Homo sapiens: one gene and its partners. The protein of the gene in region 3 purifies or fractionates together with the protein of the main gene of each other region. This does not show direct contact. Each region holds a gene or a part of one and is shown on either strand. Other genes may lie near its edges.

The links.
Region 1: the proteins of TNNT3 (region 3) and GID4 purify together in Homo sapiens (affinity purification with mass spectrometry; one large-scale study listed by BioGRID and IntAct). This does not show direct contact.
Region 2: the proteins of TNNT3 (region 3) and TTC4 purify together in Homo sapiens (co-immunoprecipitation; one large-scale study listed by IntAct). This does not show direct contact.

The regions. Positions count from the first base shown.
Region 1 is NC_000017.11:18,059,775-18,063,506, reverse strand, and holds part of GID4 (glucose-induced degradation protein 4 homolog), read right to left. Parts: intron 1,663-3,732; coding exon 1,532-1,662; intron 1-1,531.
Region 2 is NC_000001.11:54,718,861-54,722,360, reverse strand, and holds part of TTC4 (tetratricopeptide repeat protein 4), read right to left. Parts: intron 1,199-3,500; coding exon 1,121-1,198; intron 1-1,120.
Region 3 is NC_000011.10:1,936,589-1,939,320, reverse strand, and holds the end of TNNT3 (troponin T, fast skeletal muscle), read right to left. Parts: intron 2,359-2,732; coding exon 2,318-2,358; intron 884-2,317; coding exon 829-883; 3' UTR 619-828; downstream 1-618. UniProt on the Homo sapiens protein: Troponin T is the tropomyosin-binding subunit of troponin, the thin filament regulatory complex which confers calcium-sensitivity to striated muscle actomyosin ATPase activity.

The DNA of each region.
Region 1 (3,732 bases), on a different chromosome or scaffold from region 3:
TGGGGTTTCCTCTTATGGTGATGAAAATGTTCTAAACTTGATAGTTAGACAACTCTATTAATATAGGAAAGATCACTGACTTGTACACTTTTTTTTTGAGATGCAGTCTCACTCTGTCGCCCAGGCTGGAGTGCAGTGGTGCAATCTCGGCCCACCGCAACCTCCGCCTCCGAGGTTCAAGTGATTCTCCTGCCTCAGCCTCCTGAGTAGCTGGAACTACAGGTGCGTACCAGCACGCCTGGCTAATTTTTGTATTTTTAATAGAGACGGGGTTTCACCATATTGGCCAGGCTGGTGTCGAACTCCTGACCTCGTGATCTGCCCACCTCGGCCTCCCAAAGTGCTGGGATTACAGGCGTGAGCTACTGTGCCCGGACCAAAGCTGTTATTTATTTATTTATTTATTTATTTATTTATTTATTTATTTATTTTTGAGATGGTGTCTCGCTCTGTCGCCCAGGCTGGAGTGCAATGGCCCGATCTCAGCTCCCTGCAAGCTCCACCTCCCAGGTTCACGCCATTCTCCTGCCTCAGACTCCCGAGTAGCTGGGACTACAGGTGCCTGTCACCATGCCTGGCTAATTTTTTGTTTTTTAGTAGAGACGGGGTTTCACCGTGTTAGCCAGGATGGTCTCGATCTCCTGACCTCGTGATCCACCCGCCTCGGCCTCCCAAAGTGCTGGGATTACATGCGTGAGCCACTGTGCCCGGCCAGCTGTTATTTTTAAAAAGGATTATAAAAGTTTTACAAACTTGCGTGAAAACCATTACTGAAAGCCTAAAAATCGTGGCTACAGGGCTGGCATTTACTTGCAGATATAATTTCGTTACCACTGAACAAGGAATCTAGGGTAGGATCACTTCACATATAACAAAGTGTTAAATACTGGAAAGAAAGAATTTTTACCTTCAGAGAGGAAATCAGGCATTTTATCACATGGTTTGCCCTCCGGGGACAGCAAGGTGCTTAAAAAGCAGCAAGGAGGCAGGAGAATCCCTCAAAAGGTGGCAAAAGTTAGCATTCAGGCAGAGTTCAGTCCTTTACTATTGGTGACACACTGGACAGGACTGTCCACTCACAGGCCCCCAGGTCATGAGCCTTAAATCAAGTGCATGTCGGACCAACTCTAAGGAATGCAGCCACAAAATTTAAAAAGCTGCTGACAGCAAAATTCACATTGTCCAGTACTGGATCAATTCACATTTTAGTTACTAATTCAATTTGCAAGGATTAAATAAAAACCAGCAAGATTGAGATAAACATTGCCAAAAATACAGTATTGCTTAAAAGTGCTTAGAAATGAGTTCTTTCACCTATAATTCATTTTCATCTCATTTACTCTGCTCTGTGCATAGGGATAAGGCCTTATTGTGAGCAACTGAGATCACTGAAATAAGCTCTCAGCATCCAAATAAAGCACAGAATCTATACAGAGACAGGCTAAGATGTTGCTTTTGGGTTTGATGAGCCAAGGGAGAGCCAGCTGGGCAGCAAGCCCTCCCCGTGGCCTCTGTCCTCAGAGGTCCTCACCATTCTGAACTCCTATGGTAGTAGTAGCCCTCTATGGAGGCTGCTGACTTCTGAAAGCAGATGTAGTAGAACCCGGCAAAAGAAGCACCACTGATGTCTTTGATCGTGTGATCTGGGACCAGAAACTGTTCCTGCACACAGATGAAGAGGGTCAGTAACAGATAGCATTCTCTGACCACCCACGGGGCCTCCCTGTTAAGCATCAGGGGGTTCTAAGGACCACTCGAGAAAAATATAGGATCTCATAGTCTAACCTAGACTTGCTGGGTGATGGCGGGCCCGTGGGGTCTCAGCCTGACTTCTAAAAAGCGTCCATGTGCTCCTGGAGTATTCTATATACTAAAGTGACAAACTGTGTCTTGAGCTCACTAGGATCAGCAATTCAGAGAAGGTACCATGGCCGAAACATCTAATATATAAATCAATACCTACTCACCTGCCTGTCTGCCTGCCTCTCTATCTTTCAGAGACCACAGACAATCAACCTGGGAAGAGCGAAGTTTCTGCTCCAGTTCTCAGAACTGTCAACAGATGCTTGATAACATCTAGAACAGTGAGTCGCTTCTGTAGGTCTGTGGACCATTCTGAGTGCAAAGCAGTTGCCAGTAGCCCCTGTGACACCCCCTCCAAGAGCTTGACGCCTTGTCAAAAGCAGTCAGAACGGTACTGTTCTTTACCAGGGACCTTAGGAGAGAGGCAAGCTTGCCACCTCTGCTGGAGCTGAAAGCTGGAAACCCAGGTCCTGGCACCTACTTTCCCAGAGAGATGAGGTCAGAAGCTCCAGGGCCTCAGGTGGTCTACTAAAGGACCACAGATGAGCCACTCTGAGACATTCTTTGGAGGCAAAACAAGCCCATTGCTTTTTAAACAAATTTAAGACACCCTCCCATTCCTTATTCAACTTCTAAAATTGTGGCTTTTAAAATTAATTTTAAAATTCAGATCGGGTGTGGTGGCTTATGCCTGCAATCCCAACACTTTGGGAGGCTGAGGTGGGTGGATCACCTGAGGTCAGGAGTTTGAGACCAGCCTGGCCAATATGGCGAAAACCCGTCTCTACTAAAAATACAAAAAATTAGCAGGGCATGTTGGCGGGCACCTGTAATCCCAGCTACTTGGGAGGCTGAGGCAGGAGAATTGCTTGAACACGGGACGGGGAGGTTGCAGAGAACCGAGATCGCGCCATTGCACTCCAGCCTGGGCAACAGAGTGAGACTGTCTCAAAAAACAAACAAACAAACAAAAAAACCCAAAAATTAGCCAGGCGTGGTGGTACGCGCTTGTAGTCCCAGTTACTCAGGAGGCGGAGGCAGGAGACTTGCTTGAACCTGGGAGACGGAGGTTGCAGTGAGCCAAGACTGTGCCACTGCACTCCAGCCTGGGCAACAGAGTGAGATTCCGTCTCAAAACAAACAAAATTCAAACAATAAACTTCCTTTAACAGGTTGTTTAGTTGACATGTTTCCCGCTAGATGGCAAGCTCGTGAGCATACTGTTCCCTGTTTACTCTCTGCATCTGGCAACCTACTGGAAGAGTGGTGATCCCCACTTCTTTTTTTTTTTTTTTTTTTTTTTGGTGAGACAGAGTCTTGCTCTGTCACCCAGCCTGGAGTGCAGTAGCGCAATCTTGGCTCACTGCAACCTCCACCTCCTGGGTTCAAGTGATTCTCCTGCCTCAGCCTCCCGAGTAGCTGGGATTACAGGCGTGCACCACTACACCTGGCTAATTTTTGTATTTTTAGTAAAGACGGGGTTTCACCACATTGGCCAGGCTGGTCTCGAACTCCTGACCTCGTGATCTGGCTCTCTTGGCCTCCCAAAGTGCTGGGATTACAGGCATGAGCCACCGCGCCCAGTGATCCCCATTTCTTTTTTTTTTTTTTTTTTTTTTGAGATGGAGTCTTGCTCTGTCGCCAGGCTGGAGTGCAGTGGCGTGATCTCAGCTCACTGCAACTTCCATCTCCCAGGTTCAAGTGATTCCCCTGCCTTAGCCTCCTGAGTAGCTGCGACTACAGGGGCATGCCAACATGCCCGGCTAATTTTTTGTATTTTTTAGTAGAGATGGGTTTTCACCATGTTGGCCAGGATGGTCTCAATCTCTTGACCTCATGATCTGCCTGCTTCAGCCTCCCAAAGTGCTGGGATTACAGGTGTGATCCACCACGCCCGGCCGATCCCCACTTCCTAAAGTGGTTAGCTAT
Region 2 (3,500 bases), on a different chromosome or scaffold from region 3:
GCTAGACCTTAGACAAAGGACCAAGCATATCCAAGCTTTAGGTTCCTCATCTGCAAACAGGAAGAATAAAGTCCATCCCAGATGATTTTTTCAATGGAGGGAAAAAGCAGACTTTGCTTCAGCTATTCATCAAGGCAGTGGCAAGGCCAAAAACATTAGGTGTCTCCTAATTTTGTTCTTTATGGCTACCAGTTTAAGCTGCCTCTCCCCCATCAAAAAAAAAAAAAAAAATTTCATGTTATCATGTACATTTTTCTCCAGTTAGCCTCTTTAGGTTTTCCACAGAATTTCAAAATATAAGCATTGTAAGGGCTTAGATGCCAACAGATTCTAACCCCATCTTCTAGAGATGAGCAAACTGATATTCAAAGTGGGTGTCTTGCCAAGGTCACATTGTAAATTAAACCAACAACTGAATCAAGGATTACACACTTCTAGCCTGAGGCAAATTCCACAGGATTACCTAGATTCAATTTATCAGCCAATCTTTGTTCAGTACCTTCTTTTCCTACAGCTGAGGGACATGGATCTTCCTACTGCCCTTAACCATGAACATTTAAAGAGGCATAATTTTGAAAAAGCATTTTAAGCTGGTCCATGGGGATGCAGGGAAGATTAATATGTGATGAATAAATTAAAGTTTGCAAAGCACCTATGAGCTTCTCAAAGAAAAGGTGAAGTATAAAAGTAATAAAAGCACTGTTATTACATAGAAAGGTCAGACTACAAGAGAAAACATAATCTGAGAACATCTCAGCACCAAAGTCATCAGCAAAGGTCCCATAACTTATCTTTTAATTAACATTAACATGGCATTTGAAGACCTTGCCTTTCAATCAGCTAATTTGGAAAAAAAATCAGAATATGGCTTTGCAACTGCTTTGTTTTAATTAATTTTATTTTTTATTAATTTAAAATGAGGGGCTTCTAGTTCTCTACAAATTATTATTACATAAAGGGTTAAGTCACTCTCTGAGGAATTCTTTTAAAAGTGGCATGTTGCTGTTGATAAGGAACAGGAACTTAATACCCAGACTGCAAAAATAAGATGACTTTATTAGTATCCTAGCACCTTCATATCAAAGCTTTAAATGTCATACTGTAGTTCCACAAGACTTACCTCTTATTATTGCTTTGAGGTGGCAGGGTTTTAGCTTTCTGGCAGCTGTCACATCATTGAGAGCAGAACGAAAATTGCCTAACAAAACACCGTTTAGTAAAAGAGAGAAGTTTTGAGATCAAAATGTTTCCAAAATTTTATATGTAGTGACAAAGACACTCTTGTACAATCCTGGGGAAATACAAATGAGAGCAACTGTTTTTTTGAAAAAATATGGTTGTACTTGTCAAGAGCCTTAGAAATGTCTATAACAGGCAATCTACAGAACTGTAAATGGCTAGTAAGCACATGAAAAGACGTTCAACATCACTAATGATTAGGAAATTAAAATTAAGAAATTGCTAAAAGTTAGACAAATAATATCTAGTATTAGAAAAGATATGGAAAAGGGGTACTCTCAGGGTAAATTAGAAAGCAAATTAGCATGTATTTTGTACATATACTTTGACACAACAATTTTCTTCTGGAAAATTATCAAAAATACTTGAACAAATGTGCAGGGATAAATGTAAAAGCATGTTAACTACAGCATTACTTTAATTGTGAAAAGCTGGAGATAACTCAAATATCCTCAATTTGGTAATGATTACATGAATTATGGTAAATCCATACTATTGAATACTATGCAGCCATTAAAAAGAATGAGATAGATCCTCATGTAAGAAACACGGTAGGATGTCTGTTCTATATTGTTTTAAGTGGTGGTTCTATGAGTATAGAGGAAGCCTATTTAAAAAAAAAAAAAAACTAAATATCTAGACACACATGTATATATTTGTAAGTGCATTAAAAAAAAAAAAAAAGTATGCAGTCACACACATACCAGTTATCCAAACTAGCAAGCCATGAGGTATACTTTAACTTTCTGGAGTATACTATAATTATTACTTAATGGTTTAGTATTTACCTAAATCTCTAGCCCAGGGGTCAGCAAAATATTTTGTAAAGGGCCAGATAAATATTTTAGGTGTTGCAGGCCACATGTGGTCTACTGCACATTCTTCTTCATTTTATTACAATTCTTGAAAAATGTAAGAAACCTCTGGGGAGGTGGCTCACTCCTGCAATCCCAGCACTATGGGAGACCGAGGTGAGAGGATTGCTTAAGACCAGGAGTTCAAGACCAGCCTGGGCAATATAGCAAGACTCTCTCTCTACAAAAAATTTTTTAAAAATTAGCTGGGCATGGTGGTACATGCCTATAGTTCTACCTACTCGGGAGGCAGAAGTGGGAGAATTGCTTGAGCCCAGGAGTCTAAGATTGCACTATGCTATGATCACAGCTAGTACACTCCAGCCTGAACAGAGTAAGACCCTGTCACTTTAAAAAAAAAAAAAAAAAAAGTATGGAACATTTTTAGTTCATGGCAAGCCAAGGGGCCAGGGGTGGACTCTGAGTCCTAGTTTGCCAAATCGTGCTTTAGCCTAATGAATAATCAGAATTATCAGAAAAATATTATGACTTTATTTATTTTTGCATTATTTATAAAAACCAAAAAACAGTCTATATACTCAACAATAGCAGACTAATAAAGCAAACAGTATAAATAGTGGCATGTCCATATGATGCAACTTTAGCTATTGAAATAACATTCAGAAATGATTTTTAATGACGGTGAAATTGTTTGTTATAAAATTAAGTGAAAAAACTGAATATCAAACTGGAAGAACAGCAGGATCTCAACCATGGAAAAAAATGCACATGAAAGGGATCCAAGGACTTTTAGTTAAAGGAGGCAGATTGAACACATACATTTAACTCAATCCCCACTCTCTCTCCCATAAAGACAAAGAAAATGAGAAGAACACAGAACACATTGTGAAAGCTGGAAAACAAAGGAACAAGTAACTGATGTATCAGGCTTAAGGAAACTGAATTCTAAACCAGTAGAGGGAAAGCACAAAAGCTACCAAGCTGCACTGCAGAAACTACAAAGTACTCAGGACTCAGGAACTGATGGCACCAGGTACCTCTGGAAGTGGGGGTGAAGGTGGGTTGAAAATCTACTTAAGAAGCAGTCAGAGTCCCATATTCCTTACCCCTCTGCTGCACCAGTGACCTACTCCTCCCCTGTTCCTCCAGGTGGAGGACTGGAGGTTTACCCTAGCAGACAATAAAACAGTAGGTCTCTGGACTGGAACCCCCAGGCACAAAGGTGATTCAGTAAAGGAAATATTAAAGATTGAGCCCTTGGTCCTCTTCTCCTACTTGGTTCCCAAAGTACCAGCAGCCAGGATTTCCAAAAAGAGAAAAAAGAGTAAAAAAGAAAAAGAAAAATATCAAAGCATTCAGGAAAATGTCCTAGAAACATGAGTTTCCAGACTGAAAAGGTCCACTGAGTACACAGCACATTGGGAGACCAAGGCAGGTGGATCACTT
Region 3 (2,732 bases):
CAGATTTACGACCCGCGTGCGCTCTGCTGTCCTGCGTTCCGGAGAAGGCTGTCTGTGTCTTCCCTGCCTGCTGTCTGCTGGGAGTGCACTCTCCTGCACTGTTTTTCCCCGACCAGGGCCTGGGGTGCACCCCTCACGCAGGAGCCGCTCCCGCCTGCCTCTGCCTTTCTGGGGGGTGGCAAAGTCTCTTTCGCAGCCCTGCCCTCCTCCCTCACCCCCTCCCGAGGCAAAGTTTCTCTGCCCCCAGTGGATTGACAGCTGGCGCAGATGGCCAGGGTCTGGGGCTGGGGGTGAGGCCTGCAGATCACCCCCTTCTGCACAAAGACCCTATGGGAGTGGAGAGTGGAGGGGCCCTATAGGCTTGCGCGGGGATGGAGCCCACGTTTTAGAGGGAAAAGCTGTGGGCAGCGTCTGATGGGCATCCAGGCACCGCCCTGGCCGTAGCAGCAGGTGGCACGTGCTGGCCAGTGCCCTCCTGAGCTGGCCCTGCGCGTACTGGCCAGTGCCCTCCTGAGCTGGCCCCGCGGATGACCAGGACGCTGTGCCATTGGCTAGCCCCTACCTGCCTCCTCTCGTGTCCTCCGGGGCCCCCATGCAGAAGCAAGTACAGACTGTGAAGGGGGTTCTGCAGCTTTATTCACAGGCCCCAGGGGATGAAGGCAGCAAGGACACAGACGCGGGGGACGCCCCGGGATGGCCTCTCCACCCCCAGGACTGTCAGGGAGCCCCTGACAGGATTGTGGGGGCTGGAGGATGTGGAGTCCCACGAGCGGCCCTGGTGTGCAAGAGGGCGGAGGGTCTCTGCCTCGAGGGGCCTTTCTGGCCTCTCTACTTCCAGCGCCCGCCGACTTTGCCCTTGGCTGGGGTCCCAGCCTTCTTGCTGCTGCAAATGGGAAGCAAGTGATCCTTCAGGGTCAGGGCCTCTGGCCATGCCCCTCCTGGTCCCCCACCCTGGGCGGACTCTCAGCCCGACCCCAGGCTGCTCTCAGGGCACAGGCCCGGCCCAAGCTTGCGGCCCACACCCAGCTTCAGTCCGGGCAGTGCCCACTCACCTGTGCCTGGCGGGCCTAGGTCGTTAGTGTGGTTAGGGGGCTGGCACGTGAGCCCGGGGCACCCTCCCTCTGTCCTCCTTTCTTTGCCTGAGGTACCACTGCAGACAGACCCCTGAGCTGGGGAAGACTGTCTTAGCAGATAATGATATAATCCTAGACGCTTGGCCTTGAAAGAGCTCATGCCCCTCCAGACGGTGGCCTCTGAGGGGCCCAGGAGCCTGCCCCATTTGTCTGAGGTCTTCATGTGGCCACGAGCCGGGAGGAGCTGGGTGCGGGTGAGGGGTGAAGGCGGGTGGAGGACAGGAGTGCTTCGGCCCGCGAGGCCGGCCCCATTCAGACGCGGCTGCTCAGCAGGACACCTGGCTGGCAAAGGCCGTGCCCTCACACACGTTCCTGGGCACTCTCGGCACATGCACACATGCACACACGCAGGCACATGCACACCACGCCGACTGCCCACCCTCAGAGGGGTCTGCAATGACCCCTGACGGCACAACAGGGAGGCCGTGAGGTCACGTGCACCACGGAGGAGCCCGCCCTGGGCGCCGCAGGGAAGCCAAGGCGACAGGAGGAGGGAGAAGAATCCCAGAAAACATCGAAACTCCAAGTAGCCCCCAAACACTGCGATCCTTGGGGAAATGGCACTGGCTGTGCAGCTGGGCTCCATGACAGGATCCCCAGCGTGGCATCGCCGGGGGCACCCTGGGTGCAGCCCCATGCAGGTGGTCGAGTAGCTGTGTCAAGGGATCCCACAGCCCCCAGGGACACGATTTTATGGATGAGGTTTCACCATCCTGAGGAGTCCATGATTTTGCCCAGCGTCACAGAGGGGCTGGTGATGAAGCCCTGACTGCTTAATTCCCTGTCCTAGGTCCCCTTGGAGGGTGGGACACTGGCGGGATACCCTGGGGCCCAGGTTGGCCACACCAAAGGCCCCCCGAGTAGCCCCTTCTAGGGGTCCCCTGGCTGCCCTCTCCCTGCAGCCAGTGCCAGACTCGGGGCGAGGGCGTGACAGGCAAGCCCCATTGGGATCCCTCCTCCTGACTCTGCCACCCCCCAGGGCTCCCCTGCGTGCAGGAGAGGGAGGAGGCTCCGGGTCCCTGGCCACAGGCCTGCGCATGCTGGCCTGGGTGGCCTGGCCGGGTTAGTCTCGTTACTGCCCTGCCGAGGCCAGCCACCACCGGCCCTTGTTAGGGACTGGCTACAGCGGCTGGCCCCAAGGGCCCCTGTGCCCAGTGCGGAGCGAGGACGGCAGGGCTACTCACTGCTTCTGGGCCTGGTCAATGCGGCTCCTGAGCGTGGTGATCTGTGAACAACATGAGTGACTCACTGCGACGACCCGAGGGCCAGGCCTGCGTGTACTGGGTGAAGGCCTGTCTCCACCGCAGGGTGGGCTGGGCTGCGCGACCCAGGGCTGCTGGGCCCCCATGAGGGCTCCTCGGCTCCCTTACTGTCTCCTGGCTCCTTGTGCAGGGGGACACCGTCCCGTGGCCCCTGGGCTCATGCCTGGACTTACTCTCGCCAGCCTGTACTGGCCTGGACTGCCACACACAGCAGCCCGTAGCTGGCCACTTACCTTCAGCCTGCGGCAGGATGTGGGGCGGGGGGTACGGAGCACGGATGGGGCTGGGGAGGGGTTGCAGGTGAGGCCTGCGGACCCCTCCTTCTCAGCTCCAGCTC